Regions from separate parts of the Homo sapiens genome. Here region 1 is linked to region 2. Evidence: fine-mapped expression QTL. A gene starts in region 2. The other region holds a variant in brackets. All regions are shown on one strand. Distances are from middle to middle.

Region 1 (12,556 bases), 250 kb after region 2:
TTTTAAAGGAAAATTATTTCAATCTGACAAGGGAATTTTTTTTTCTATTTCTTGGGCCACAAAGCAGTCTAGCAAATGTGAGCTGGGCCTAAACTATTGGAATTTTAGGGATATTTTGACAGTTTGTCTCAGTATTTTCTAAGCTAGAGTTTACCACATGAGATATTAAGCAGGCACTCTGTGAAATAAAAGGAAGTCAACAATTACATGCCACTCTCCTCCATAGAACTGGGTCCTCAGCCTTGGCGGCACTTCCAATCACCTGGAAAACTTAAAAAAAAAAAAAAAATCAATGTTTGAGTTGCACCTGGAGAATTCTGGTTTAATTGGAATGGGGTAGAGCCTGGAGATAATCAGTGTTTTCGAACGGCTCCCCAGGTCACTCAGAGGTACTGTTTGCCAGAAGAAACACAGCCTTAGGTATTTATAAATTATATTAGCACACTGAATGCTCTGAGAAGTCCTTCAATCAAGAAATCTGTAAAGCTCTTTTAACCCTGAGTTTCTCAAATGTATTTGCCTCTTTACCCCTGCTTCTTTTTCCCCTAGTACTTTTATTAACCTATTAAACCATTCTGAAGTGCAATATTTTATAGAATATTACTTAGAAAATCTACCGGGGGTTGAGGGGGTGAAGAAAACAGGACAGAAGTTTTTTGGACTACCTGTCAGTTTCAGCTTCCTTATCTATAAAATGAGGGTAAAAAGTAGTACACAGAAATAGTGTGAGAATTCAACGAGGTAATGCATTTAACCACCTAGAACAGAGTTAAGTATTCCCTGAGTAGTAGAATGATGATGAGTTGGCACCATTACTAGGCTCCCTGGGCACCCAAAGGGGTCTGGATGTTAGGATGTTAGCCCAGTGTGTCCAACCTTTGTGATACTCCTGGCACTTCTCTTGCCCCAGTCACTCAGCAAGGTGATACTCTGCCTCCACCAGCCCAAGGAGGCTGACTTGCCTGTCCACTAGAGTGACCACTGCTAACTCTTCTTCTCCCCCCTTGTTCCCAGGAAAGATGGTGAATGTGCCCCTGGAGCAGCTGCCCCTCCTCTTTAAGGTGGTGCTGCATTCCTGCAAGACCAGTGTGGGCAAGGAATGACCTGTTCCAGGCGCCCTCCTCAGGCCAACCACAGCGTCTTGGGTGGGCAGGACAGGCTCTGGAGGGAAAAGCCAGAGAGACCAAGATGGAGGCTGTGGAGCAGCATTTCCCGTTGCCTCCATAGCAAGAAGAGTTTTTGTTTGTTTGTCTGTTTTTTTAACCTCATTTTTCTATATATTTATTTCACGACAGAGTTGAATGTATGGCCTTCAACATGATGCACATGCTTTTGTGTGAATGCAGCCAATGCATTTTCTTACAGTTTACAGAATGTGAAGATGTTTAATGTTACAGTGTTGTCATTGTTTAGAAATAGTTCTTTTGTATTTTGAGGGAGAGGGTGGGATGGGGCTAAGATGACTATTTCCATAATGTTGACAAAGATGACTACCTCAATGGAAATGGGGGGTGTGGCCATCCCTACTTTTTCCACATTTTCTCAGCAGACTCATACATTTGTCTGTCAGAGAGCAAATTGCCTTTTTTAGCCACAGAATTGCCAGATAAAACGGCACACTGTAAGGGGGCAAAGTGTTGTTAGGAGATTCACTAAGCAAGGTTGGTGAGACGGCAACAGGGTAGGAGGTGAGGATTGAGCCACGTCCTTTCCTTGGAAAGCGTGAAAATTAAGAGAGTAGGGCACAGTGACCATATTTAAGGCAGGTGTCCTTCCACCCAACAAGTCCTAAGGGCAGAAGAATTTCTGTTCTCACACCTTGCTGCCCCCCTTACCCCTGCACCACCATCATTGTCTACCACTGCGAACTTTCCATCTAGGCAAAGTCCTGGCAATCACTTGATCCACAGGACTCGCCTCCCAGCTCCCTCGGGGCCCCCAGCTACCTAGTTTCCTTACCTGGATCTCCTGAGGCCCACCTTCCTCCTTCCCACTCCCTTACACATTTGACTTCCTATTGGCCCTTTGAAAAACCAGCTGAGCAGAATGCCATGTTCTGAAGCCTGGTGCCCACTACTGATTTATTCTCCTTTCACCTTGTTTTCTTCAAAGGGTAGTAGGGCAAGGCCAGACTGCAAAAAGAATAGACACTCCCCTTTTGAAATCTGTTCCTCTCCCCTCCCCTTCCTACCGCACCCTCAGGTCTAAATCCGAAAACTTCAGGCTTTTTTAAACAATGAGAAGGACCATTCACCTGTCTGCTGACCAGAAATGTTGCCCCTAAGTTCTTCTCCAAGTTCTCCTTTTCTCTCCAGAGTGAGACCAGTTTTCCTCAGGGACCCAGGACACAAAGCCCAAGGCCCAGAGTGGCTCAGCTGCCCCTTACTTCAGCAGTGGACTGGCCAGCCAAGGCCTGGAGGGCTGGAGCCAGAAGCACCTGGAAGGGAAGGGGGGCTTTAAACTACCTCAGGTTCCTAATGGCCCGGCTGCTACCTCTGCAGACATGGCCTGGACTCCTTGACCTCTCACTACCTGCCCCACCTTATCCCAGGACGTGTTCCTTACCCTCTTGACTTTGGCCAGCGCTACACCAGGTCTGTCTTTGAACTCTTTCAGGTGCTTGTCCTGCCTACACCCAGGTATCTTTCACAGCCAGTGTGGCAAGCAGACCACTTAGTTGGCTGCATGCCTGGGTAGGTTGGAAGGGCCCACGGCACCTTCTTCTGCCTATTTAGTCAAAGGCTGTTTGCTGTCTCCTCAACTCAACCTAGTAAAGCTACCCAGGAGGGCACCACGTCGTGTGCATACTGGGTAGTCCATGTCTGATTGTAATTGTTTCTTTCTGGTGAAATGTTACGGGTACCAGCAGAGTGATGATTTTGGCCCTTGATGGATCTAAAACTCGGAACATTACTCCTCAATGCCGTTTCCCCAGTTGCTCTGAGAAGGAAGAGACATGTTCCTCAGGAAAAGCTCCAGCTAGCATGTTTTTCACGTCAGTGGGAAGATTCTTGTGTGTTCGTGTGTATCTGTTTATTTCTAAGTTCACGATACTTGTTCCCCTGAATTTTATTTAACCAACTAGATCACATTCTTTGGCCACAGGTCAGACTCTGAGCTGCTTTCCTCCAGATCGGGAAGGAGACACATATCACAGATGCCTTCTCTAAGACAGCTCCTGTGTACAGCATCGTTCTTTGCTGAGGCCTCTATCTGTCCAATTATTATTTTTGAAATTGCTTTTCAAATTAAACATTTTACCCGTTGTGTTGGGTGTCAAAAGAAATTGCTCTCTGATGAGGCAAGAACATGTCTCTCCAACAACGTAGTATTGAACAGAGCAAGTTGTTAATTTGTGGAGTAGGGGAAAGGTTCTGCAAGTTGCCATTGTACAAATCCAGTTTTACAAATGTTTGCAGCAGATTCCACAGAACAAAGAGCCCATTCATTGCCGAGAGCCCTGCAGAATCTCAGAGCAAAGTGGCTGTGTGTTCCGAGCCGGAGCCTGACCTGTGGACCGTCTTTAATGTCTTCTGCACCAGTCCTTTTATGACGTGGGCTTTTTTTAAACAGGGTAAAGTGAATGTGTTGCATTGCAAACTCAGGTATTATGAGGAGAAGGTAGGAGTGTAGCTAGCAGCGTGGAGACATTAGGTCAGCCACTAGATGTATTTGTGAATTTGGTTTGAAGGACACGGAGAAAGGTTGGAGGGGAGGTTTGGTGTGTTTGTTTTTTGCTTTCTTCCCCATAATGTTTGGTTAACAGGTAGCCTTTTTGCGAGTGGAAGGAGAGAAAAGTTGTGCATGTTTTCTCTAATTTCTCTTTCTGCCCTCTCTCTGATCCCCAACCACCAAAAGCACTCACTTTGAGTGAGGATTTTTTTTTTTTTTTTTTTTTTTTTTTTTGAGGCGGAGTCTCGCTCTGTCGCTCAGGCTGGAGTGCAGTGGTGCGATCTTGGCTCACTGCAAGCTCCGCCTCCCGGGTTCATGCCATTCTCCTGCCTCAGCCTCCTGAGTAGCTGGGACTACAGGCGCCCGCCACCACACCCGGCTAACTTTTTTTGTATTTTTAGTAGAAACATTGTTTCACCACGTTAGCCAGGATGGTCTCCATCTCCTGACCTCGTGATCCGCCTGCCTCGGCCTCCCAAAGTGCTGGGATTACAGGCGTGAGCCACTGCACCCAGCCGAGTGAGAATTTTTATGCCATAAAAATACGACTCTGAAAGCTACATGGAAAAGGAGAATCCCACCTCCTTGCACTACATTGAAACATGCAAGCCTTTCCCTCCCTCTCCTTTTTGATGTTTTCTTGTCCCAAGACAAAAGTTTGGCATCTTGGAACTTATTCATGCTCTCTGGCTGCCTTTGTAGACTTTTGGAGTCCTTTGCAAGGTTTGGTGGTCTCGTCGTTAATCTGGAGAAATTCCCCAGAATCTGTCTCAAAGCGCTCAACCTGGCTCAGAGGACACCCAGCCCCTATGCCCCACTCACAAGAGAGGTGGGCAAGCCCCCAGGGATAGGAGGAAGTAAGCAGGATCCTCCCTGTCCTGTTTCCCAGAACCAGAGCAAGGAATGGGGAATCC[T/C]AAGGGTTTCTGTGGCATCACTGAATGTCACCCACTCCACATCAACCTGCCTCTCACCTGCCACCCTTTTTCAGGGAGGTGAGTACCTGCCATGGTCACTGTTACCAGATCCTTAAAATCCTGGGCTCTGAGCTAGGTGCATTGCTCTGTTACCCATTTCCTACATTTGTTTGTTTGTTCTTGATTTCCTGGGGGAATGGGACTGATGGAGACAGACAAACCCACTGTGGGCAGCATCTAAGCCATGTCCAAGGTTGGTCGAATTAAGGGAACCCTGGCCTCTCAGCAGGACAGAAAGCTGAGCTGTGGTTCCAGGCCCTCCTCTCTGGGCCCCTGGTGTGTATCTTTTTTCCTTGTTGCTTTTGAAATTTTTGCAATTATTTTAAGAATCCAGTCTTTCAGACCAGCCCTTTTATTAAGCTTTGAATTTTTAATTGATTTTTTTAAAGTAAAAAAAAAAAAAACCCAAAAAACAAACAAAATTTAACAAAAAAATCCGCTACTCTTACTCCCCTGCCTCCCCCTACCCCAGCCCATGAGAGTTCCCTTGCACTCCCCTCTGCCTTTGCAACTGATCATCCTCCCTTTCTCCTTGGCTTGAAGCATCTATGTCCAGTATCTGTGAAATGATGTTTTATCTGTGTGTCAGGATGAGAAACGGCAGTCATTCCACCAAGTGTTGGAAACTGGTTAGCCTGGAGACAAGGGTTTCTGGGGCCACAGCTCAGGGATGTGTATTTAATTACAGGATCCCCAGAAACTCCTCTCTAGGCTGCCACAGCAACATTTTTTCTGGGCTTGGGAGCCATACCTGAACTGTTTCCTCCAAGGCGGGAACTCCAGAGAGCCTGCCAAGTCTGGAGCAAGCTGGGGCTTCTGCTTTGGCCAGACCTGGGCCACCATGAGACTTGAAGGCTTCTAGCTGTCCTACGACACGAGCCACGGTGGCCCTGCCTCTCCCCGCTCATAGAAGCCTGGTCCCTCTGTCTAGCCCAGTTCCCATCTAGCATCCGTCTTCTGGGCCTGAAGCCCTAAATGGACCACAGCCTGCACAGGAATCAACTGTAGGCTCAAAGGGAGGCGGTGAGTAAGGTCAGAGCCTGCTCCAAGCCCAAGAACAAAAGTTGTGTTATGGGTGGAGGCTAGTCCCCCAGATCTAGCCCTGCCGTCTTTGCCCTTTAATGACCATTGTTTTCTTTCTCTAAAATGTCTTGTAATAGGTGATAATGTTGTTGATTCAAATTTCCATGAAAAAGAAAAAAAAAACTACCTCTTAAGCGACATCCTGGTCGATTCCTCTCTGAGGAATCCTGTGGGAAAAGAATACTGTAGCTCCTGCTCTGTTTACATGTTTCTGTCGGGAAAGAAGCCCCGCCTGCCCTGGGGTGTTGGTGTTTTTGTCTGTGTTGCCATCCCAGGTCTGCCATAGGGGCTGGTGGCTGCATTGTGATGTCTGGGCTGTGTCTGGGGATTCCTTCCCACCTACCCAGCCAGGGACTAGTCACCCCCCTGAAGAGGCCTCCATTTCCTTCCTGTGCTCCAGGGCATAGGGAGCACCACTCCCACAGACACCACCTTTAAGGGCTCTAGTGGCACACACATCCACGAGCCTACCCCCAGGTTACCTGCCCTAGGTCCACCTCCACCCACAGTCCTGTGTGTAGGAATCGAGGAAACGGGATGTCCCTGAGCCCTTGTCTCCAAAGGGCCGGCCAAGGGCTGCCCGCCAGCCTGACTCCATCAACCCTCCATGACCAAATGATAGCTGGCGGGCTCTGCAGGCTACCCAGGCCCTCTGCTACCTCCCACCCTGCCAGCTGGCAAGGGATGGGCCCTGTTCTGTGAATTGACTACCTGTGGAAATGTGACCAATTAGTGTGAAATGCATGTTTAGCAAGTGTTAGGTACTGTATTTGAACCAATAAATGTGAATCCTTCTGCACATGGCATCTGTCTGTGAAGCTTGTCTGGGGTTCTGGGGAGGGATGATGGCGTGTCCTGAGGCGCCGGCTTGTGCCTTCAGACCTGTGTCTCTTGCTCATAGCTGACACCCACCTCAATTCTGTTGCTGAGGCTCTGGCAGAAGGTGGTGTCTCGGAACTGCCTGAATCAATGAACCAGCACTGACTGAAGTGCCCAACTTGTGTGCCAGGCACCATATTGAACTTCAAGGATTATTCTGTTTTATAAGTGAAGAAACTACAGTTGAGTGAGGTGAAAAGACTCTCCCAAGGTGAGTGGCACAACCAGAGAAGTGAGCCTAGTGGAGAGGCAGATACAGACTTTTGCAGTGCAGGGGGGATGAGGTTGTCATTAGGGATGTATGTGGGGTTGTAAGGGCCTGGAGAAGGAGTGGCTTGTTCTATGGAGGATAGTCAGGAAGAGCTTCACAGATGAGTGTTGTTGAAGGTGGCCCTTGAAGAAAGTCACGAGGCAAAGGGATCCACAGGTAGGCCAGGTAGAGGGATCCATGTCCAAAGGCCTGGCTGTGTATCAGAAAGATGGGAGTGTTCAGGTAAAACAAGGGACTGTCATGGCAAGAATGATGGCAGGTGGGAGGGATTAGCAAGAGTTGAGGCTGGAGAAGCAGTTGGGAGCCTTGGATGCCACATTCAAGAGTGTGGGGAAAGAAAGCTGTTTGCTGAGTCTTGGGCAAGAGAGCAGCATCATAGTGCATGAGAGGCCAATGGATGGCCTAGGATGCACTGTGCTCTAGCAAAGTAATACTGTCTTTCCAGAAAATAGGTGAGGTCTATTAATAGCTTTTCTAGAGCTGAAAAAATGGAGGCTCTAAGAGATCAAGGGATGTGGCCCAAATCACACAGGAGTGTTAAGTTTGTACTTGAACTCAGATCTGCCCAACTGTCCTGTAGGCCTGCTCATATGATCAGAGAAGTGGCAGAGTTTGGGTTGAGGGGTGTATGAAGACAGATGGGAGAGATGAAGGCTTCTCAGGCTGGGAAGATAAAGGCTGAGGAGGGTTTGATCAAAGTCTATTAATCCTCTTGTGTGAAATGAGGGAAGCCCAGCTGCCTTCCCATTCCTCAGCCTCCAGCACAAGAAACCAGAGAGCCCTTGAGTTTTGAAAGAGATGGGTTTAGAACAAAGCAAATGCTGCAGAACGAATTAATAGACTGTCTTCCTTGCCCCCACAAGAGGGAACAGATACACAGAGGTGCCGGGAGGAGAAGGGACGCATTGGCCCACCGCCTCGTGAGTCCAGGCGCCGTAATTGGTGCTTCACGCATGTCGTCTCAGTAATCTTCATAACAGCCTTGCAAGGGGTAGGTCTCAGCCCCATTTTTCTAATAAGCAAATTGAGGCTCAAGGAAGTTAAGCCTTTTGCTTCAGATGACACATTAGTCAGTGGCAGAATTGGCTTTTGAATCCAGGTCTATCTGATACTAAAGTTACAACTGGCTTCCTCCCTGCTCAGCCTTAGCAATTCAGTAGTGCTGAATGTGGATATCCAGAGTTTGTAGCAAAGCTCAGTAATGGCCTTTGGGTGAACCTTTTGCCATAGAAACAAAAAAATAAAAAACATTAATAAAGGATTAATTCTGTAAGAGGTGGATGAACAGACCCAACCAAAGTGAGCTGAAAAGCGGTGCTGCCCAGTCATGTGGAATACTGCAGGCGCTACATTGGTATGGCTTCCCAGAGCTCAGGAACCTCCCCCCCACCCCACCCCACCCCCAGAGATGGTTCCATGGAAGAAGCCTGAATTCTGTTGCCAAAAATATGGGAAGTGCTGCACTCGCTCTATCATCCTCATTGATTCTCAGCCCTTACTGGCATATTAAAGTCTCGAGAAGTCCCACCTGAAGAAAACTAATGTTGTTTAACCCAGGTTCTACCAAAAGCATTTGAGCATTGGACATTTTTGCCTCCTGTTAAAATTCTGTTGGGATAATATTCCATGGAATAAAAGGACACTGCTCTAAATACATAAATTGCTGCTTATGTGACACTGAGCTTTCAGTTTCCTGGGTGCCAGCCAATAATATGGAGGAATAATAAAGTAACATCTAGAAAACAAAGCAAAGCTCTGTGCTGAGTATTTTGTGTGCATTAGAGTACTACTGATTCCCCAGAGCAACCCGGTGAGGTTAATGCTATAATGATCCCATATTACAGATAAGAAAACAGAGGCCCAGAAAGGGTAAGTCATTTGCTTGAGGTTACATAACTGGCAAGATGTCAGGAATGAATATAAACCAGCATCGATTGAGCACCTACTATTCGGCAGGATCTGTGCTGTGATTCTTATCCTTGTGCAAACCCTCAGAGGTACGTAAGACCATCTGCATACCTGAAGAAACAGGGAAGGCTGGCTACTCCGAATTAAGTCAGAGTCTGAAGACAGAAGCCCCTGGAAATGATGGCAGGGGAAAGTGCTGGGATGAGGTTGAGTCTGACTACACAGAGCTCTTTCCAGGGGTCGTTTCCTTCAAGCAGTCTATGAGACAGCAGGCACGTCAACCAGAGATCTCACCACCTGAGTTCTCATTCCAGCTCTTGCCCTTCCTGGTTGTATGTGACCTTGACCCAGACAGATGCTTCTCTGATCCTCACTTTCCCTGTCAGACAAATGGAGGTGCTGGTACCTGTGTCCTGGGGGACAGGGGGCAGTGTTAAGGAAGATTGAGTGTGGCTGGCTTAAAGTTGGGTCTCAGTGAAGTCAATACATGAAAGGAGGCTAGGTACGGGGAGCTGTCGCCCCTACACCCCAAGAGCAGAAACTTAGCAGAGCCAGGAGCCTTGGCCTGGCTGCCCATCAGGGTTTTAGGTCCACAGTGGTAATCAGTCTCTCAGATCCTATGGCAAAAGTGCCCAACTGCCAGACCCGGGGCTCTTGGAGTCTTGTTCCCTTGGCAACAAGTCTCACCATGGAGACCACAGCCCCATCCTTGCCCTCCCTGCATGCTGCCTCTCCACAAACCCTTGTTCAACACCCAGTCCTAGGAGCAGTGTAGGTACTGAGGAGTGCTTCCAGGAGGCACTTCCTCAGGTGAGTTGGAGGCAAAAGGAACTCCCATTTTTTGAGTGTCCACTTTATGTGTGGCAAGGTCCATAGGCATCAGCTACATACGTGGTCTCGTTCAGGTTAAAAGCCACGTGCTCACCCTGTTTTCCGTAAGTGGAAACTGAGGCTCAGGGAGGCAACATGGACCAGCCCAAAGTCTCACGGCTAGTCGGTGTTGGAGCTGAGACCTGAATCCAGGGCTTCTGACTCAGGAACCCATGCTTTTTCTGCAACTCCCCATTCCCACCCATGTTACCAAGACAAAGCCTCCAGCCACAATCTGAGGAGGGCTGGGTACCCGGGCCTCTGCCAGCAGCACGAGCAGCCAGCCAGCAGCCCTCTGAGGTCTGGGCTGGGCCCAGCACCATTACAGGAGGAACTGTACTATTTTAAGCCAGGGCCAGAGGGCCCCTTGTGGGCACAGGGAGGGTAGCCTGGGGCCCTTGGCCAGCTTCCCGGAAGTCCCCATGGCCTCCCTTTTCTCCCGCTAGCAGGTTTGTGAGGCAGTGACTTCCCTACAAACAGGAAGGAGGCTCTCAGGCTGGGAGACCTCCAGCCCCAGCTTCCTCCCCATTGCTGCCACCCCCAGGCTTCTCCACTACATGGGGGAGCCCTCCAGCACCAGGCCCTATCAGTGTCCATCATCCAGGCTGACTCCTAGCAGTGGGTGGGAGGGGGCCTGAATTTGGGCTCCCTGGGCTGCCCCAGCTCACCCACTACAGTTCCAAGGTCTCTGCTTTCTGAAGCCCTTTGTCCCTCACCCAAGCCCGAGTTCTCATAGACATTCCCACTCAGCTGGCCACTGTGAGCTAGAAAGAAAAGTGTCAGTATCCTTAGATGTGGCCCCATTCAAGGACCCCAGAGAGAGAAAAGAAAAACAGACTAGGCGGCTGAAAATAGCAGAGAGAAACAAATTAGAACATGATTAAGATACCGACAGTGACAGATTCATCGTGACAGAGATGAAAGCAGAGACAAGCGAAGAGACACCAGAGATGGCTGTGCAGGGCTGGAGCCGAGAGCAGGGGGTGGTGCAGCATGATGGCTTCTGACCACCCTCCAAGCACAGGCCCTGTCTCGGGGCTGTGGGGGCGCCCACCGGCTGCGTGGCTGAAGTGGAATGTGGGGAGCAAGGCTGGGTCACCCCTTGAGGGCCAAGCGTGTGCACCGAGAGATAAGCTACCCCAGGCTGGGGGCCCCAGCTGCACTGCACGCTCCAGGAGCCTGGTGGAGAGGCCAGACCCAAGGCTGGAGCCCAGCTCTGCCAGATGCCACCTTCTGCACCTCCTACGGGGGCTCCCCCAGGCCTCATGTTCTAAGGGTCCCAGGTCCTCTGCCCAGCCCTTGGGGCAGCAGGTTCTGGGTGCATCCAGTTCACAGAAGAGCAGTGTGGGCCCTAGGAATAGTACCAGCCACAAAGAGGCTCCTATCTTGCTTCTCCAGTGCGGGCTGCAGTCCTGGGTCAGGAGAGAGGTCGGGGGGGTAGGGGCCCTAAGCTGAACACGCAGAGCAGGGGCTCTAGCAGGCTGTGGGGTGCTGAGGAGAGCTGTGGGGGCGCAGCTCTTCACTCTGTGAGCTGTCCCCATGTGGCACTGTGCACTCATGTGCCTGAGTGTGTGTCCATGTGCTTTCTCGAATGTGCAAAGATGTATGTGTCCACGTGTTGCCAGGAGCCCCAATCTGCCTCCACAAGTCCCTGCTCTCAGTCTAGAGAACTGGCCCCAGGGGCACCTGGCCTTTCCCATCCCCACGAGGTGGTCCAGCCCAGAGAGCCACCAGGCAGAGGGGGAAGAGCGAGCAGGTCTATTGCAGGCCCCTAGCCCCCCTCCCCACACTGCAGCTGAGGCTCCCGCTGGCCACGGCCTTGACCCAGCACTATGGACTTCTCTGACATTGGCATCGGATCTGAACATCTGGCAGCAGGCTGATAAGGGGTGCAGCGGAAACAGCCTCTGCTGCCGCCAGCAGGCCCGCCCCCTCCGCTGCCCTGCACGGGGTCTCCACATCCACCCTCCCTCCACCTCCAGCTCTCCAGGCCTCGGCCCTTCCCGCTTCTCGTTCTCTGCCTCAGTCTCTCTCTCTCCGTCTGAATCTCTCTCATCCCTACTCTCTCTCTCTTCCTCATTTCTTCTCGCTCTCATTTCTTCTCTCCCCAACCCTCACCACTCTGAATTTCTCTGTCATCCTCCCTCCCTCCGACTGCGTCTCCCCTTTCTCTCTGTGTTCATATTTTCTGCCCAAGCCTCTGCAGCTTCTCTCTCTTTTTCTGGCCACCTTTCCACTCTGCAGCCTGATGATTCTGTCCCTCTCTCTGTTTCAGTTTCTGGGCCTCTGGTTTGTTTGTTCCTTATCCCACCTCCAGGAAATGGGCCTGGCACTTTGGGAAAGTCCCCAGTTAGGAGAGAGACCCTGGGCTTTGTTTGCCTGGGGAGGGAGGTTGGGGGCGCCTGAGTCAGGACTACAGCCCTCCTTTGCTTTCCCCTCTGGGTAGGTCTAGTGGCCTGGGACCACCAGGGCTAGAGCTTGAAGGAAAGGACAGGCCACCCAGGGGCTCTGGCAGGGTGGAGAGGAGTCAGCCTGCAGGCCTGGGCTCTGGACTCCACTGCTGGGATTTGAACGCTGGTCCCATCACACCCTCGCCTGGTGACTTTGGGAAGATGCCTGGTCTCTCTAAGCCTGACTTTCCTCCTCTCTTAACTGCTGCTATCGGGGGTTGAGAGGGAATTACTACCTACCTCCCAGAATGCCGGAGAGGTTCGAGACTGACTGCAGGTGTGGAGTGGTTAGCTGGGGACCTGGCACATAGGGGGGCACTTCTGAGTTGGGGCCTTGCCATTCCCAGCACGCTGGTAACCCCTGGCTGCCCCTGTCCCCATAGAGCACCCACTTTGGCTGAGGGTGGGAGGGGGCAGCACAGAGGAAGGGGGTACCAGTGACTGTGGCC
Region 2 (15,404 bases):
CACCCCAGGGAAAACGGAATGGGCTTGGAGAGGAAGGCGGGGTTGTGATGGGGGAAGGAGCGAGTGATAATGAAAACAGCTCTCTCTGCAGAGCCAGCAGGAGTCTGGCTCAGCTAAGGAATGCAGAGTAAATTCACCCATCACTTGATTTTTATTTTTCCCAGCTGGCTGAAGTGGTTTGGGGGTGGGAGGTGTCTGGGGGAGGGCTGTGCTGAGTCCCCCAGCTGTTCATCCTGCAAGCTCTAGGTTGTGCCTCTCCACCCCACCAGCCCCAGCTTGTCCTGGGACAGCTAAACACCCCCCCCCCACCACACACACACACAACCTAGCAAGTGTTTGGCTGACTCACTACACAAACAGGGTGTTGGGTTTTCTTTGTCTCTGCTTTGTTTAGAATGTGAGCTCTCCCCCACAAGCTCTACAGCTCTCTGCACAGACGATGCCCAACACCAAATATCCCTCCCAGCCAGAGATCCCAGTGGTGACAAGGCACTGATCAGGTTACCTAGGATTTTCTACTCACTTGTCATCATACCTGAGCCAGATCAGGGAATCCCAGAGGGCCCCATATGGAAGGAAGGTTGGGGAGATGTTTCTTAGATGAAGAAACTGAAGCCCAGAGACAGGCAGTGATTTGCCCAAGGTCACACAGCAGAAGAATAGCAGAGGAAGGCCAGAACCTAGGGTTTTAAATGTACAAGCCAGCTGCCTCTGTAAACACCCTAGTTTCCCCACCTGTAAATTAGAAAAAATACTCATTCCCTCCTTGTCTCTGGAGTACATGAGCAGCGTTGTACGTGGGTGCTTTCATGCCCTGAGCTGAATCAGGCTGAGAGTTGGCCAGTGCCCACTGCTCATATACTCACCGTGTGGCTAGTGGCTTCTGTCTTTTATCTGTCCGTGGGCAGGCAGGACACTCACATTCTACCAGGAAAGAGGCTGGAGAGGTATTGGAAGTCACTTTTTTGCCCTCACGCTCTGTGACCAGGGCTCTGGTCCTGCTCCTCACTCTCCCCAAGGTCTGTCCGTTTTTTTTTTTGTTTGTTTTGTTTTGTTTTAAGACACAATCTTGCTCTGTTCCCCAGGTTGGAGTGCACTGGCGCAATCTCCACTGACTGCAACCTCCGCCTGCTGGGTTCAAGCGATTCTCCTGCTTCAGCCTCCCGAGTAGCTGGGATTACAGGTGTGCACCACCACACCTGGCTAATTTAATTTAATTTTTTTTTTTTTTATAGAGACGGGGTCTCACTCTGTTGCCTAGACTGGTCTTGTGCCACTGCGCCCAGCTAATTTTTGTATTTTTAGTAGAGATGGGGTTTCACCATATTGGCCAGGCTGGTCCTGAACTCCTGGCCTCAAGCGATCCACCTGCCTTGGCCTCCCAAAGTGCTAGGATTACAGGTGTGAGCCACTGAACCTGGCCATCAGGGAGTCATTTCCAGAACACCCCAAGTGCTCTGGTGCTAAGTATTTTTTTTTTTTCTTTTTTTTTTTGACACGGAGTCTCGCTCTGTCGCCCAGGCTGGAGTGCAGTGGCGCGATCTCGGCTCACTGCAAGCTCCGCCTCCCGGGTTCACGCCATTCTCCTACCTCAGCTTCCGGAGTAGCTGGGACTACAGGCGCCCACCACCATGCCTGGCTACTTTTTTTTGTATTTTTAGTAGAGACGGGGTTTCACCGTGTTAGCCAGGATGGTCTCGATCTCCTGACCTTGTGATCCGCCCGTCTCGGCCTCCCAAAGTGCTGGGATTACAGGCGTGAGCCACCGCGCCCGGCCTAGTGCTAAGTACTTTACAGGCATGACCACACCGCATCTAGAGACCATCAACTGCAGGAAGTGGGTCCCATGATTCTCCCTGTATCTACAGGTGAATAGACGGAGGCTCAGATGGGCGATGGCGGATGAGAAGCGGATGTGCGACTGAACCCAGGTCGGCTTGACACCAGAGCAGATCCTCTTAGCCACAGCAGAGAACAGCTCAGACCACTTCTGGAGCTACCTAGTCCTCCAGGGGGTGCACCCGGTCCCTGGCAAGAACATCAGAGGCCAGGCGAGTGGCCAGCGCGGCTGCGTTCATCGGGTAGAGAAGACCCCCAGTCCCCAGCGGGCCGTGAAAGCCGTGGCCCAGGGCTTGCTGCAAGCCTGGGAGTCGTTGGGTAACAGTTGCCAGGAGCTTCCCCTACGAACCCCGAGTCTGGCCAGCACTCCGGGGAAATCCCCCGACCCCTCCGGGAATCGGACCCGGTCCCAGCGCCCCTTCCTCAGGCCCCGGGTCCCTAGCATCCCTACATCTCCAGCGCTTGTTCCTCCACGCGCCCCTCTCTCGGGGCCCCTGCCCCTGCGGCTTCAGTGCTGAGAAGTCCCAGGTTCGGTCTCTCAGCTCCCGGCTCCTCCGCCCTGGCCCCGGGCTCCCTCCCGGGCCGCACCCCAGCCACAGCGCCCCCTCGCGCCCCGCTACCCGCCGAGCCGCGCGGGTCCGAGGGGCGTGCGTACCTTACTGTCGGCGCGCGTGGGGCGGCCGCTCAGCAGCAGCACTAGCGGCAGAAGGAGCAGCGGCCGGGGCGGGAGGGCGGCAGCGGCCATGGCGCCACGGGCACGGTAGGCACAGGCGGCCGGGCACGGACGCTGGGAAGCGCGGGCTGCACTGCGAGCTCCGCGCCTTCGCCCGCTCTGCCTGCCCCGCGCCCCGCGCCTGCACCCTGCTGCCAGCCCCGCGGGTCTTCCAGCGCCGCCAGGGGCGGAGCTAGGGCGGAGGGGGCACCCCGCCCCGCCCCGCCCGCCGTTCGCGGGGCCTCCCCGTCGTCGGGCGGCTCTCCCAAGGGCATCCCTGCCCGCGCGCCAGGGTGGGTCTCGATCGCAGCCGGCAGGAGCAACGGGGCCAGGGCGAGGCGCGTGGGCTCCTCTCACGGACTCAGGTCCTGTCCTGTGAGTCGTGGGACCTTGGGCGTGTCCCTTCACCTGTGTGCCTCAGTTTCCTCATCTGTAAGATGGGGGACTCGTGCTTTCCTTTTGGAGTGTTTGTAAAGTTCGCATGAGAGACGGATGTTCCCAGGGCACGTGAGCCCTTGCGCTCTCCGATTTCACCCACTTCTGGACAGGGACCTGACTGCTGTAAGCCTTCCCAAGGCTCAGCAACCCCAACCTGTCTTCCGTCTTTCATTTCTCCTTCCCTCTGGAATCCCTCCTGTCGGCTCCCAAACTCCAGTAGCTTCCGGCTTTTAAATTTTTATTTTTCTCACTCTGTTGCCCAGGCCGTAGTGCAGTGGTGCGATCCCAGCTCACTACAGCCTTGACCTTCCCAGCTCAAGTGATCCTCCCACCTCAGCCTCCTGAGTAGCTGAAACTACAGGTGTGCACCACTACACCTGGCTAATTTAAAGTTTTTTTTTTTTTTGCAGAGACGGGGTCTCACTCTGTTGCCTAGACTGGTCTTGAACTTCTGGGCTCAAGCAATCCTCCCACCTTGGCCTCCGAAAGTGTTGAGATTACAGGCATGAGCCACTGCACCCAGCATTTCCTTTTTTTTTTTTGACTGGGTCTTCCTTTGTCACCCAGGCTGGAGTGCTGTGTTGCGAATACAGCTCACTGTATCGTCAACTTTCCAGCTCAAGCTATCCTCCTCCCTCAGCCTTCTGAATAACTTGGACTACAGGCATGTGCCACCATGCTGGCTAATTTCTGTATTTATTTTAGGGATGGGGTCTTCTGTGTTGCCCAGGCTCTCAAACTCCCGGGCTCAAGCAATCCAGCCACCCTAGTCTCTCAAAGTGTTGGGATTACAAGTGTGAGCCACCATGCTTGGTCTCATTTTCTTCATAGAATTTATTGCTCAATGGGACTGTCTTTCTTGTTGGTGTGTTTGTTTCCTTGTGTTGGAGCATGACTTCCTAGGGCACATTCTTAGTTTCTCCCCATGAACATTGAACTCAGTGGTTCTCAAAGTGTGGTCCTTGGTCTCAGCCTCCGCATCATCGGATAACTTGTTAAAAATGCAAACTCTCCCAGCCTGGGCAACATGGTGAAAACTCGCCTCTACTAAAAATACAAAAATTAGGCTGATGTGGTGGTGCATGCCTATAATCCCAGCTACTCGGGAGGCTGGGGCAGGAGAATCGCTTGTGAACCCGGGAGGCAGAGGTTGCAGTGAGCCGAGATGGCACCACTGCACTCCAGCCTGGGCAAGAGTGACACTCTGTCTCAAAAACAAACAAACAAACCCAAAAAACAAAACTTAGCTGGGCGTGGTGGCACATGCCTGTAGTCCCAGCTACTTGGGAGGCTGAGGCACAAAAATCACTTGAACCCAGGAGGCAGAGGCTGTAGTGAGCCAAGATCGTGACACTGTACTCCAGCCTGGGTGACAGAGCGAGACCTTCTCAAAGAAAAAAAAAAGAAAAAGAAATGCAAATTCTTAGGCCCCACTACAGACTCACAAAATCAGAAACTCTGGGCATGGAGTCCAGCAATCTGTGTTTTAACACACCCTCCAGGGCTCCAGGGGGCTTAGGGTTTGAGAACCACTGACCTGGCACAAGGTACGGTGCTCTACAACTCTCAGCTGAATTAAAGAACCCTGTGCAAAGCACACACTGAGTACAAATAAGCTGCTGCTGCTTCTTTTTTTTTTTTTTTTTCTTGAGACAGAGTCTTGCACTGTCGCCCGGGCTGGAGTGCAGTGGCGCAATCTCGGCTCACTGCAATGTCCGCCTCCCGGCTTCAAGCAATTCTCCTGCCTCAGCCTCCCAAGTAGCTGGGATTACAGGTGCCTGCCGCCACGCCCAGCTAATTTTTTGTATTTTTAGTAGAGACAGGGTTTCACTATGTTGGCCAAGCTGGTCTCAAACTCCTGACCTCGTGACCCGCCCACCTCGGCCTCCCAAAGTGCTGGGATTACAGGCATGAGCCACTGTGCCCATCCACAAATAAGCTTCTTCTATAACTAGAGATCCCCTGGGAGGCATCAAAACCGGGGCTAGATTAGTGTAAAAAGTAAATATCGTGTATGTTCTTATGGACATAGACTATCTGAAAAACAATGCAAAAAGTCAGCACGGTGGTTCTAAGGAGATCCAGGGAGTAAGAACTTTCATTGCATCCTGTGGGTTTTGTAATGTGTGTGTCCTATGTATTCAAAAACGGGACAGAGCGTACTTAAAAGAAATCGAAGCCGGCAGGGGGGATTCCCTCCCCAAGCCCTTTCTTGATGAACTGCGGCCTTGCTCTGACTCTAGGCAGGACAAGGAAGAGCAAGGCTGCCGTCACTAGAGGAACTCTGCCCCCTGCTGGCTGTTCCCCCACATGACCTGATAATCTCTGGCTGCCTCCTCTTTACCCTTCTCTCTCTCAGTGGGCTCTGGTCACCACAGATTCTCCCAGCTCCTCAAATGGGCCAAGCCGTGATCTGGCTGGCCTTGGGACCTTGGCACATGCTGTTCCTTCCACCTGAAAGCCTTCCTCTCCACCTAGTCTCACTTCTAGTCATCCCTCCCGATTGAGATCAGTCAATCTGACCCGCCTCGGCCTCCCAAAGTGCTAGGATTACAGGTGTGAGCCACCATGTCCGGCCATGCCTGCCTTGTTCTTAGCTGTATCCCAGTCTGGTCCCGTCTGTCTGCTGCCTCTGGCCTCAGAACCACAGCCCCCTAAGATCCCTCCTTACCCTTAGACACATTCCTTTCCAGATCTTTTGAGTCCTGCAGGTGGTAGCAGAGTCTTTTTCATCTTTCTGAACCTGTCCCCACATTTCTAAACTGGGGGAGAAAGTATTGATTTCTTAGGATTGTTGGAAGAAATGTAGAGAGATTAGATAAAAGGCCCCATAGTAGGTGCTGGACTCATAGTGAGTGCTTAGTTCATTGGGCTGTCAATGCTTAGGACAGTGGCTGGGGTCTCTAGCACAGTCATTTCCCTTGTTTTTCTCAGTCTTGTGGTATTTGACTCCTCCCAGAAGCACTTTCAGAAGACATGCATCTGAGATTTAGAACCACTCTTTAAATAACATTAGTAAGAGGTTCCATTTATTAGGCCAGACCTTTAATTGCTTTGCAAGCATCGTTTAATTCTCATAGCATTCCTGCTAGGTAGCAACTATCATTATTACCCATCCCCTTAGAAGACAGGAAATAGAGGCTCAGAAGTCACTCACCTAAGGTTAGCTGTTTTTATCCATTCTTTCACCCAGTCAGCAATTATTGAGAGCCTACTATGTGCCAGATCTGTACTCAGCAGTTGGGGTTATGAGTGAGAATAAAGGGATGTGACTAGTCAGGGAGGTGTGGGAAGGTTTATGGAAGGAAGGGACAACAGAGCTGTAGTCTGAAGGACTGGAGGAGTTGTTTCCAGGGGCTGAGCATTTGGCTGAACTCTTCTGCCCATCTAAAGAGGGTTGACTTAGAATCTTCATCAACTACCAAAACTCCAGGGCTGCACGTTTCTGCAGTGCCACTTAGGCTCTGATGGCATCTCCAGGGACAGAGAACTCACTACCACCAGAACCTGTGACAAAAAGGTAGATTCCTGAGAAAGGCCAGATGGTCCTGACTTTTTTTTTCTTTCTTTTTTTTTTTGAGACGGAGTTTTGCTCTTGTTGCCCAGGCTGGAGTGCAATTGCGCCATCTCGGCTTACCGCAGTCTCCGCCTCCTGGGTTCAAACGATTCTCCTGCCCCAGCCTCCTGAGTAGCTGGGATTACTGGCATGCGCCACCACGCCTGGCTAATTTTGTATTTTTAGTAGAGACGGGTTTTCTCCATATTGGTCAGGCTGGTCTCGAACTCCTGACTTCAGGTGATCCGCCCGCCTCAGTCTCCCAAAGTGTGGGGATTACAGGCATGAACCACGGCGCCCAGCAAGGTCCTAAAGTATTTTAGAACCCACAGCTGAGGGAATGGCAGGCCGTCCTCTCTTAGTCACAGGGTTTAGCTCCTGAAACACTGCTACCTAGCAGAGGGGATCTAGTTGTCCCTCGGTGGAAGGTATTAAGGAAGATGCCACTGAAGAAACATTTGAACAGGATCTTGAAAGATGAATAGGAGTTTGGGAGTGGGTCAGGTGAAGTCAGCCGCGTTCCAGCTTGAAGGAGCCAAGGATTAAGGTTCTGGTGTGTGACAGAATGGAGCTGGAATCCCCATCACTTCTGGTGGACTTCATCAGTGCTGGAAAGGGACAATATTGTTGCTATCTCATAGAGCAGGTATGAGGTTTAGACGGCAGAGCGTTAATGTAAGTCTCCCAGATTACGTATGAAATACAGTTTCACCAGGGTTGGTAAGGTCCAGTTGCCCCCAAGTGCAGAGAAGCGTTGCAACTTTCGTAGCAGGTGAGGGACGGGGTATGGTGCGAAATGTGGGCAAGGGTCAGGCCAAGCAGGGATGCGAATGCCAGGACGAGGACTTAAAATTAGGCAAAAAAAAAATAAAAGGGCTAAGGGATTGGTGGGGCGGGTGGGGCAGGAGAGGGCGAATGAGCGGCCACCGAGGAAGCTGCAGCATAATCCGGCAGAGCAGAAGTGGGCAAAGCACCAACGTTCTCGTTCTTTGTCTTCAAGTGGGCCAGGTAGGCCTTAGACCCTTGGCGGCAGCAGCGAAATCCTTTCCCGATGGGGTCGCCGAAGACGGACACCCCGGCGGGCCTAGTGACCGGTGGCCGCGCGCCACCTGGTGGCCGCAGCGGGTGGATTCGGCCGGGAGCCGCTGCAAAATTCGGGATTTTGCTTCCGGAAAGCTTCGGGAAACTGAGGTGGGAGGGGCAGGGGTTTGCGATCTTCCAACTTGATCCTGTCCTTATTCCAACCCCCTTTTACAGATAGGGAAACTGAGGAAAGGGGAAGGCAAACAAGGCTGGGCAAGGGATCCCTCTTAAACGGAAGGTTTCAAGACACCTGGGGTCAAGAGCCTAGGGCTTTCTTTAATAGCCCCAATGGCCCGGAGCTTAGTTTGCCCATCTGTTCTATGGGCAGGGGGAAAATGAAAGGGGAGGAGGGGAAACTTTAGTCTTTGCCGCCCACCCGGAGGTAAAAAGTCTTTAAAGACTACCCCGGAAAGAAGAGTTTTATATATTCCATTTGCATACGAACGCAGTCACCTCGAGTTAAACTCCGGTCCTTTAATCTCCGGTCCAATTTGTCCCGCAGCGGCAGGGAGAGGCCCACGTGAGTACCTTCAAGCCCCGCCTCCAGGGCCCCGCCCACAGGGCTGGGCTTCGTTGCACGTGCTCACCCGGCTGCCTCGCGATCCACCTCCTCGCAAAGACTCATTGTTGGGGTGGGGGGTTACGAGGACTCTTAGGGAACTTTGATCAGGTAGAAATCACAATCAAGACAAGGCCCGGAAGTATCCGCTTACTACATAGACATCAAACGCTTTGTCATGGTTCTTGATATTGACAGACTTTAGCTTTCCCTTCTCAGGACTTCTTATCCCTCCTTCCACCCCTTCAGTTGGTGCGGTCGGCGTGGCCGGCCTCGCTGAGCGGACTCCAACTTCCAGCGTGCCCCGCAGGGCCTTGCGCGGCAGCGGCGTGTGACGTCAGGGGAGGGAGCTGGCCAGTGCTGAGGGGGCGCGGCGCGGAGGGGCGCGGAGCGGCGCGGAGCCGGGCGGCTCGGGGCCCAGAGAGAGCCGCGGCCGGGAGCTCGCGGGCTCCTGACAACCTCCTCCCCTCGGCGGACGACGACCACGGCGACTAGGGCGCCGGTCATGGCGGAGCAACAAACCCGGCGCGGACCCTAGGCACCACCGCATGGAGCGGGACGAACCGCCGCCTAGCGGAGGGGGAGGCGGCGGGGGCTCGGCGGGGTTCCTGGAGCCTCCCGCCGCGCTCCCTCCGCCGCCGCGCAACGGTGGGTGAGGGGCCTGCGACGCCCGGGCCAGGCAGGAACCGGCTTCCTGAGCCTCCGCCAGGGATCCCCCTCCTCTCTGCCGACCCTCGCCCTGGGAAGCCGCAGCGGCCCCGCGGCCCCTTAGGGTGGCCCTTCACCCCGTTCCCCGTTGGCGCGGACCCTCCCTCTCCTCCCCGGTCTCGCTCAGGGTGGATCCTCCTCCTTCGTCCCTGTTCCCTTCTGCGCGGACCCTCCCCCTGCCCGGGTCCCTGGGCACCGAGCTTCATTTCCCCCTCCCCCCGTCCCCTCTGCACAGGCTTCCCCTCCCCCCGTCCCCTCAGCACCAATCCTCCCTCCTCCCCCCGGGTCCCCTCCCCCTGTCTTCCCAGCACCGAACCTTCCCCTCCCCCCGGGCTCCTCAGGTTGGAAGTCCCCACCGCGGTCCGTCAGTGGGGGCATCCCCTCACTCGGGTTCCCTTAACGCAGAGCCTCTCTTTTCCCCTACAGGGGTTCCTCCTCCCACCGAGGACGCTCCCTTCTTGCCCTGTTGACCCGACTCCACAGCACCCTTGTACCGCTCAGCTTTCTAGAGCGTTTTCCTCTTCTGCAGCCTCGAGCGTTCTTCCTTGAATACTACGAGCCCCCCACCTCTGCCGAACCCCCGTTCGCTAGACATCCCCCAGTCGTTTCCTTTTTCGGACCCCTTCGCGCCTCCTGCTTCCCCTGCGCCTCACCTTCCTCAACGCCCCGCGCGCTCTGGCCGGTCTCCGCCCCTGCTCAGCTCCCCTCTCCGCCAGGCAACGGCTTTCCCTGGCCGAGGGCTCCAGCCCGCCCCGGGGCCCCGGACACCTGCCTCCTCCCGGCTTCTGCCCGGCAGGTCCCGGTCCCCACCTCTTAGTCTCAGTTCTCCTCTTTCTTGTCCCGATCCGGGACCTTGGGAGCTGAGAATCCCTCACCTGGCCCGGCCCTTCCTACCGCTCGTCCCTCGCCCCCTCGCCCGGGCCGGGTCCTCAGGTTCCTCGGGGCTTCCTCGCCCTCCTCCCCTTCGCTCCCTCCCCCTGCGGGGTGTTTTATTTGTATCTGTTTGATATTTTCCTCCTCGGTGTTTGCCGCGGAATGTTTTTATTGGTAACGTGTTAGGAGCTTTTGTGAGGTCGTAAAAGGTGAACTTTTGAACTTGGAAAGCGCCCTGGAGCAATTAGCGCAGGCGATCGCCCCGGGAGGCCTGCATTACAAAGGGTGCTCGCACCGGCCGGCAAACGCTCCGGCGGCAAACCCGATTTATTTATTTGCCCTGTTTTCCACCTTTCACATCTCCTCATTTCCGAATAAAGGGAGGCTCTCAGAGATCAGTGCCTCCTCCCCTCGCTGCGCCATAAACTCGCAGTTCTCTGAGAGATCTAGGACCGAACAGTGTCTAACAAGTAACAGATTTCAAATTGAATGCAAACACCCGGGACAGTTAGGAGGCACTAAAAATTAACTGCTTCACCAAGAGGTTTCTCAATCAGGACAGTGACCTGGCAGGTGTGAGGAAAGTAACCTGAAAATAGGTCAGTTAGGCGCTCAATTGTTGAATGAGTGAGTAGCTACAGACGGTGGAAATCTTGGGTTGGATCCGTGCCTTCATACGTTTATTAACTAGTCAAACATTTTGTTAGTTCAGGAGATCTGGTGTTTTTTACAAAAGGGAAAAGTCCGTGTAGAAGAGAGCTTGGTTAACTTCACTTGATGTTGCTGATCTTAAAAATAATGATGTGTTTTCAGAGCTCTTTTTTTTTTTTTTTTAATTTGTGTATGATGTATGATGGCTAGGTGGCTGGCCGTTCCGTGGGCTGTCGTTGGCAACTAATTTCTGAATGTGAACATGTTTGAGATCAATAAAATTCCGTGTCACAAAGGGGGAAGCTGGAATCCAGTTAGGGTAGAAGGAGACAGTATAATAGGAACAAAGGATTTCTTTAATGCCTTTGACTTTTTAAGCTAGTTTGTGTGGAGATTTGGTTTGGTATTAATTTGTGAGTGTTGTAAATCCTGATCTAAATTTTCCCATGCTGATTTTTTTGAATCCAAACCCCAACCTATCTTATATCCCATATTAGCGTGTATATTTCTGTGATGCCTTCCTATGTGTGAATACTTCCTGTACCCACCTGTGCATATAATGTAGATGACGGATTTTACTGCAATTCAATATTTACTGCAATATTGCTTTCAATTCTACTTGAGAATAATAGTGTTGTAAGAGAAACCTAAGAACTGCATTTGTTATTAATTATTCATTAGTACATTTTAAAGAACTCAATGGTAATTTTAACTCTTAATCAGATTTCCCATTCATAGTCTCATTTCCTCAATTGGTCAGAACCATTTGAAAGAATGTTATCGAGCAATCCATTTAGACTAAGGTGGCTTTAAAGCTTTACATTAGTCTAAGTTAGTGGTACAGATGTTTTCTTTTTGCTGAAAATACAATGGGAACTTTTGGCAGCTTGATGGGCTTAAAATACACTAGACGCTAGACCGTTGTGGGATATTTTTCAGTGTAAAAACTAGCATTGTGCAATGTTTTACAATTTATGTTCATTAGCACTTATGAAGTTAACATGCTCACAGAAGAATTGCCAAAAATTTTTTTAAGTTTGCCTATGGAACAATGGGCACATTTTTTCTTTTTTGCTTCCTAATTAATATTTTTCTCCAAAAATATATGAAACTGCTTGTTCTGAGTAGAAAAGAAATGAATTATCTGTTTTTTACTCCTAGTGACTGATTTCTATTTTATATGAACTATTTTCAAGAGACAACTATACAGATAGGGGGTCTTTTGGTCTCTGTCATGAAGAAATAAACTGGAGGTGGCATTTTAGAAATGTTTTCCTACCGGAAACACCATTGATGCTGAATTTACAGTCCTTTGAATGGTTTTTATTCTGTCAGAACAGAGTTTCTTTCTAGCCTTTTGATGCACCATCATCCTTCCAGGAATTCCCTGTGCTGACTGCGCTATTTTCAGTTGTTGCTTGTAGGTTTTCATAACAAACATGAACTCATTTAGTTGTAATAGAGGACTGCTCCCTTTTGGGATTTCAAAGGAAGATGAATGATTTGAGGAAGTGTATGCTGAATATTGCATTTGTTCATTTTAAGAGAATGAGGGAATATACTTTTAAATATTTAAAGCAAAGGAAGGCAAAGGAAGGTTATAAGCCATTATAAGTAATTAAAAGCATATTTTATGTAATTACACTTTAGAGGAAATGGGGAGAAGTTCACTGAATAGCACGGTGCCTTTTTCTTCTGCTATAACCATGCCGTCCAAATGTTTATGCTGGAAAATAAATTGGCAAATATTTCCCATGATGATTTAACTTTTCAGTTCTGTGATTTAAAAAATTAAGTTAATTCTGAGTTGCCCCAGAATTTTTTCCTACTCCCATTAGAAAAAAACAAAACCAAAAACATGCTGTAGTACTGTTGTTTCTTAGTACATACAGCACGCAGGTTTTTCTTTTTTTTTTTTTTTTCTTTTTTTGTAGCTTCTGTGACCTCCAAAGACGGCTAGGGTAGAAGAAAGGCGACAGTGAGCAAATTCACTGGTGATTTTGCATAGCTGAGGTGGGAGATGACCACATTTACAGTCTCCAGTGTACAAGCCACCAAATCATTCAGCAGTTCTGATTCATGTAACCAAAATATGATGACATGATTCCTAATCTATAATTCATTCTGACTTCCGTAGCAAAAAGGTGTATGCAAGGCACATGTGTTAGTACATGAAAGGGAGTTGGATGGGGAGCTAATGAAAAAAATAACTGCTGGTAAATTTCCAAAAATATGTCCAAATCATGCATTTCCATATTTTATTTAGAATTTTCTGGTTTCTCATTCCCTACTTTTTTCCTAGGGTTTTGGGGCAAAGGTGGAAAATAGAGTTTAGATTAAAATACCACATTTTAGAATAGTAGAGGATGGTAGGTAGAAATGCCAACTGTTGCTGTAACATTGGTAGAGGAAGTTTCTTATACCACCCCTAGTGTTTGTTGTGCAAGTTGGCTTTAAATTGCTAATGATGCTTGCATGTTTTGGAGCTTGGAGCTGTGTTTCATTTGTGTTAGTGGGAAGATTTACCACTTCATTTTTATAATTGGGTAGATATTATTTATTGGTTATGTTGAAAAATTGGTTTGTTAATGAATTGTGTTCAGATGGCAACTTCTAGCTTAAGAATTGCATAAAGCCAGGATAGATTCTCCCACATTAGGAGACTTCATTGTCAGCAAATTCATCGAGATCTTTGGGGCTGGTCATAATCTTTGCTTCTTAAGTTTATTTTTGATTTATAGCCAAATTAATGACACTTTTCTGTTCAGTATTTTTCCATGCATAATAATTAAGTTGAAAGTGACACTTGAGAAGATGTGTTTTAGAGTAAATTTTACATTGTTGGGTCAGTCTGTTTTTTTTAAGTAGGACAGTAAAAGTGCCTTATTTCATGTGTAAAAACAGATTCTAGTCATGTGGGAAAAAGGTCAGAATTAGAAAAATCAAAGTTCTGAATCAACAGATAAACACGCTTGTATTTCAATAAAGAATAAATGTGCTTGAAACAGTTTTTAACAGAAGGTAGCTATCTAATCTGCCCACATAAGTAGTGATCTGATATACCCAACTCTTTGTAATACTTTGAGAGCATTTCCAAAACCAATTAAGTTGTGAAGGAAAATGTTTTTCACACTTCTGCATTAAGATCAACCTTAACTTTTTAATTAAAGTTTTTTCCTGGCTCAGGTAATTTCTTAAGGGTTTATGGATGCCTTCGATAACTAGGGTTCAGAAATACCAGAATTATTAAAAATGAGCAAGAAAGTGGTTTGGTACTGAGCAGGTAATTCTTTCTTGGGTATTGAGCTTTTTAGAGCTTAAGTTTCAGATTCAGCTGAGCTTAAATTTAAAAAACGTCTCTAGATGTAACTTTGATATACAGTATTTCTAGAATCCAGCCCAGTCTTTTGTTCATTGATTGTTTTCCAACATGGCTTGTCTTTAAGAAAAAGACAAGGGTGTTAGACTGTAACACCCTTAGTAAGTAATAGAAAATCAGAAGAAAACCACTGTGAGATGTCTAACCTGTTTTTCAGTATGGCGGAGAAATAGCCACAGGAAAAAGAGGAGAGCATCATTTGAAAGAATAAAACATTTCCTACGGTATTTCGTTCTTCATTCTTTGTTACCTGCTATTAAACAGCAGCCTTTGTAGAAAAGCTTCTCAAAAAAACCCAGAGTTTTTTCAGTGGTTACAGTTATTTAAATAAGACTTTACTAGTGTAACCCGGTAATTCTAATTAACAGTGATTTAGTTTGGGAGCGGACCAGGATTTCCTCAGCCGGCTGCTGGGGAGCTGAATTGCTTTTTTCCCCACCCCCAGCTGCACCAAATCTTTTGATCCCCAAGCTACAGTGGTTGTCATTTGAGAAAGCAAACTGAGAGAAAATACGTTGTGAAAATAGCCTACTTTGAAACTTCATTTGCATTTTGGAATTTTTGTTCTTAAAAAAATTATAGGAATAATTGAACTCCCAAATTTTTATCTTGACAGAAGCAAACTGGCCAAATTCTTACGTCTAAATAGAAAATTCCTGGATTTCCTAAAATTTTTTTGCTTTAAAAATTTCGGGGGCTGTTTTAATATTGACAGTCACGATTTCAAAAGAGAAATGATTCTAATTATAAATTCACAGGAGGGCTTCAAGTGTTCTGAGTTTCTTTAAGGAGTGTGTGTTTGGGACAAATAAAGTTATGCAATGGAGTAGTTTTCATTCAGGGTAGTTTGTGGTTTCTCCATCAGCATTATATAATCTCAAATACAGAATCACGGATTCTTACGTCTTATACTAAATAAACCATACAATTCGTTACATTAAGAATTAACTTTAAAAAAGTGTCTTTAAATGATGAGGCCTTTGGATTCTAATTGTAAACTCTACACCCTTCAATTTGTTTACACCAGAGAAGCTATTCAAGCATAAACCACAGATGGCAGTAGCAGTATATTTTTCTGTTTCTGGACTGATTCTTGCCTTTAAGTTGGTGTCAGTTCTATGGGCCCTGCTGATAAGTCAGCTGGCAGGTGTAATGTTTCTAAAACCAATTCCCTGGGCAGCAACATGTAATGTATTCAGGGAAACAAATCCAGGCATTTGATTTGAAGATATACTCTGTGGGTGGTTTGACCCAGAATAGTGACTTTGCACTCACTGCCCAAGTGAGAAATTATTTTAAAAATTTGGTAATAGTGATTAAGGGAGTTGTTAGAGTAATAGCTATAGCACATTGGAATTGTAGTGGTATTATTAGCAGAGAATGTATCTAACAGATATTTGCTTGAACAACTATTTGCATTGTAAACAATTTATAACTCATTAAAAATATACTCAAGATTCATATTTTGAGAGAGAAATGCACAACTAAATTCTTCATGTGAAAAAGATGGATAATCTTCCCAGCTTTTTATTTCCAGTTCCTCCTTACATTTCATAGAATCATGGATTTTTAGATCTGTGTATAAGAGCATTTTGGAGGTCTAAGA

Evidence for each region. PIP is the estimated chance that this variant, and not a neighbour inherited with it, causes the effect. A credible set is the group of variants that fine-mapping cannot tell apart.
Region 1: its variant is the best candidate, but not a certain one, in a credible set for the expression of NR6A1 in whole blood (TOPMed, PIP 0.67).

Annotation. Positions count from the first base shown.
Region 1 is chr9:124,511,252-124,523,807 of GRCh38, reverse strand. It overlaps NR6A1 (nuclear receptor subfamily 6 group A member 1), which reads left to right. Exons shown (of 10, transcript NM_033334.4): 10 at 1,015-6,533. The coding sequence ends at 1,103. Among named protein-coding and RNA genes, the nearest start is that of NR5A1, 10 kb to the right of the region's middle. RefSeq lists an enhancer at 11,200-11,752. The variant T/C (reference allele first, on the strand shown) is at 4,587.
Region 2 is chr9:124,764,451-124,779,854 of GRCh38, reverse strand. NR6A1 (nuclear receptor subfamily 6 group A member 1) reads left to right here and starts at 8,544. Exons shown (of 10, transcript NM_033334.4): 1 at 8,544-8,835. The coding sequence starts at 8,736. LOC124900274 (a long non-coding RNA gene) reads left to right here and starts at 9,375. Exons shown (of 2, transcript XR_007061773.1): 1 at 9,375-15,404. It overlaps LOC107987126 (a long non-coding RNA gene), which reads right to left and starts at 8,498. Exons shown (of 2, transcript XR_001746926.3): 1 at 8,082-8,498; 2 at 6,018-7,153. OLFML2A (olfactomedin like 2A) reads right to left here and starts at 2,722. Exons shown (of 8, transcript NM_182487.4): 1 at 2,495-2,722. The coding sequence starts at 2,584. RefSeq lists silencers at 2,349-2,648, 2,719-2,818, 8,475-9,054, 9,595-9,844 and enhancers at 8,145-8,404, 8,195-8,762.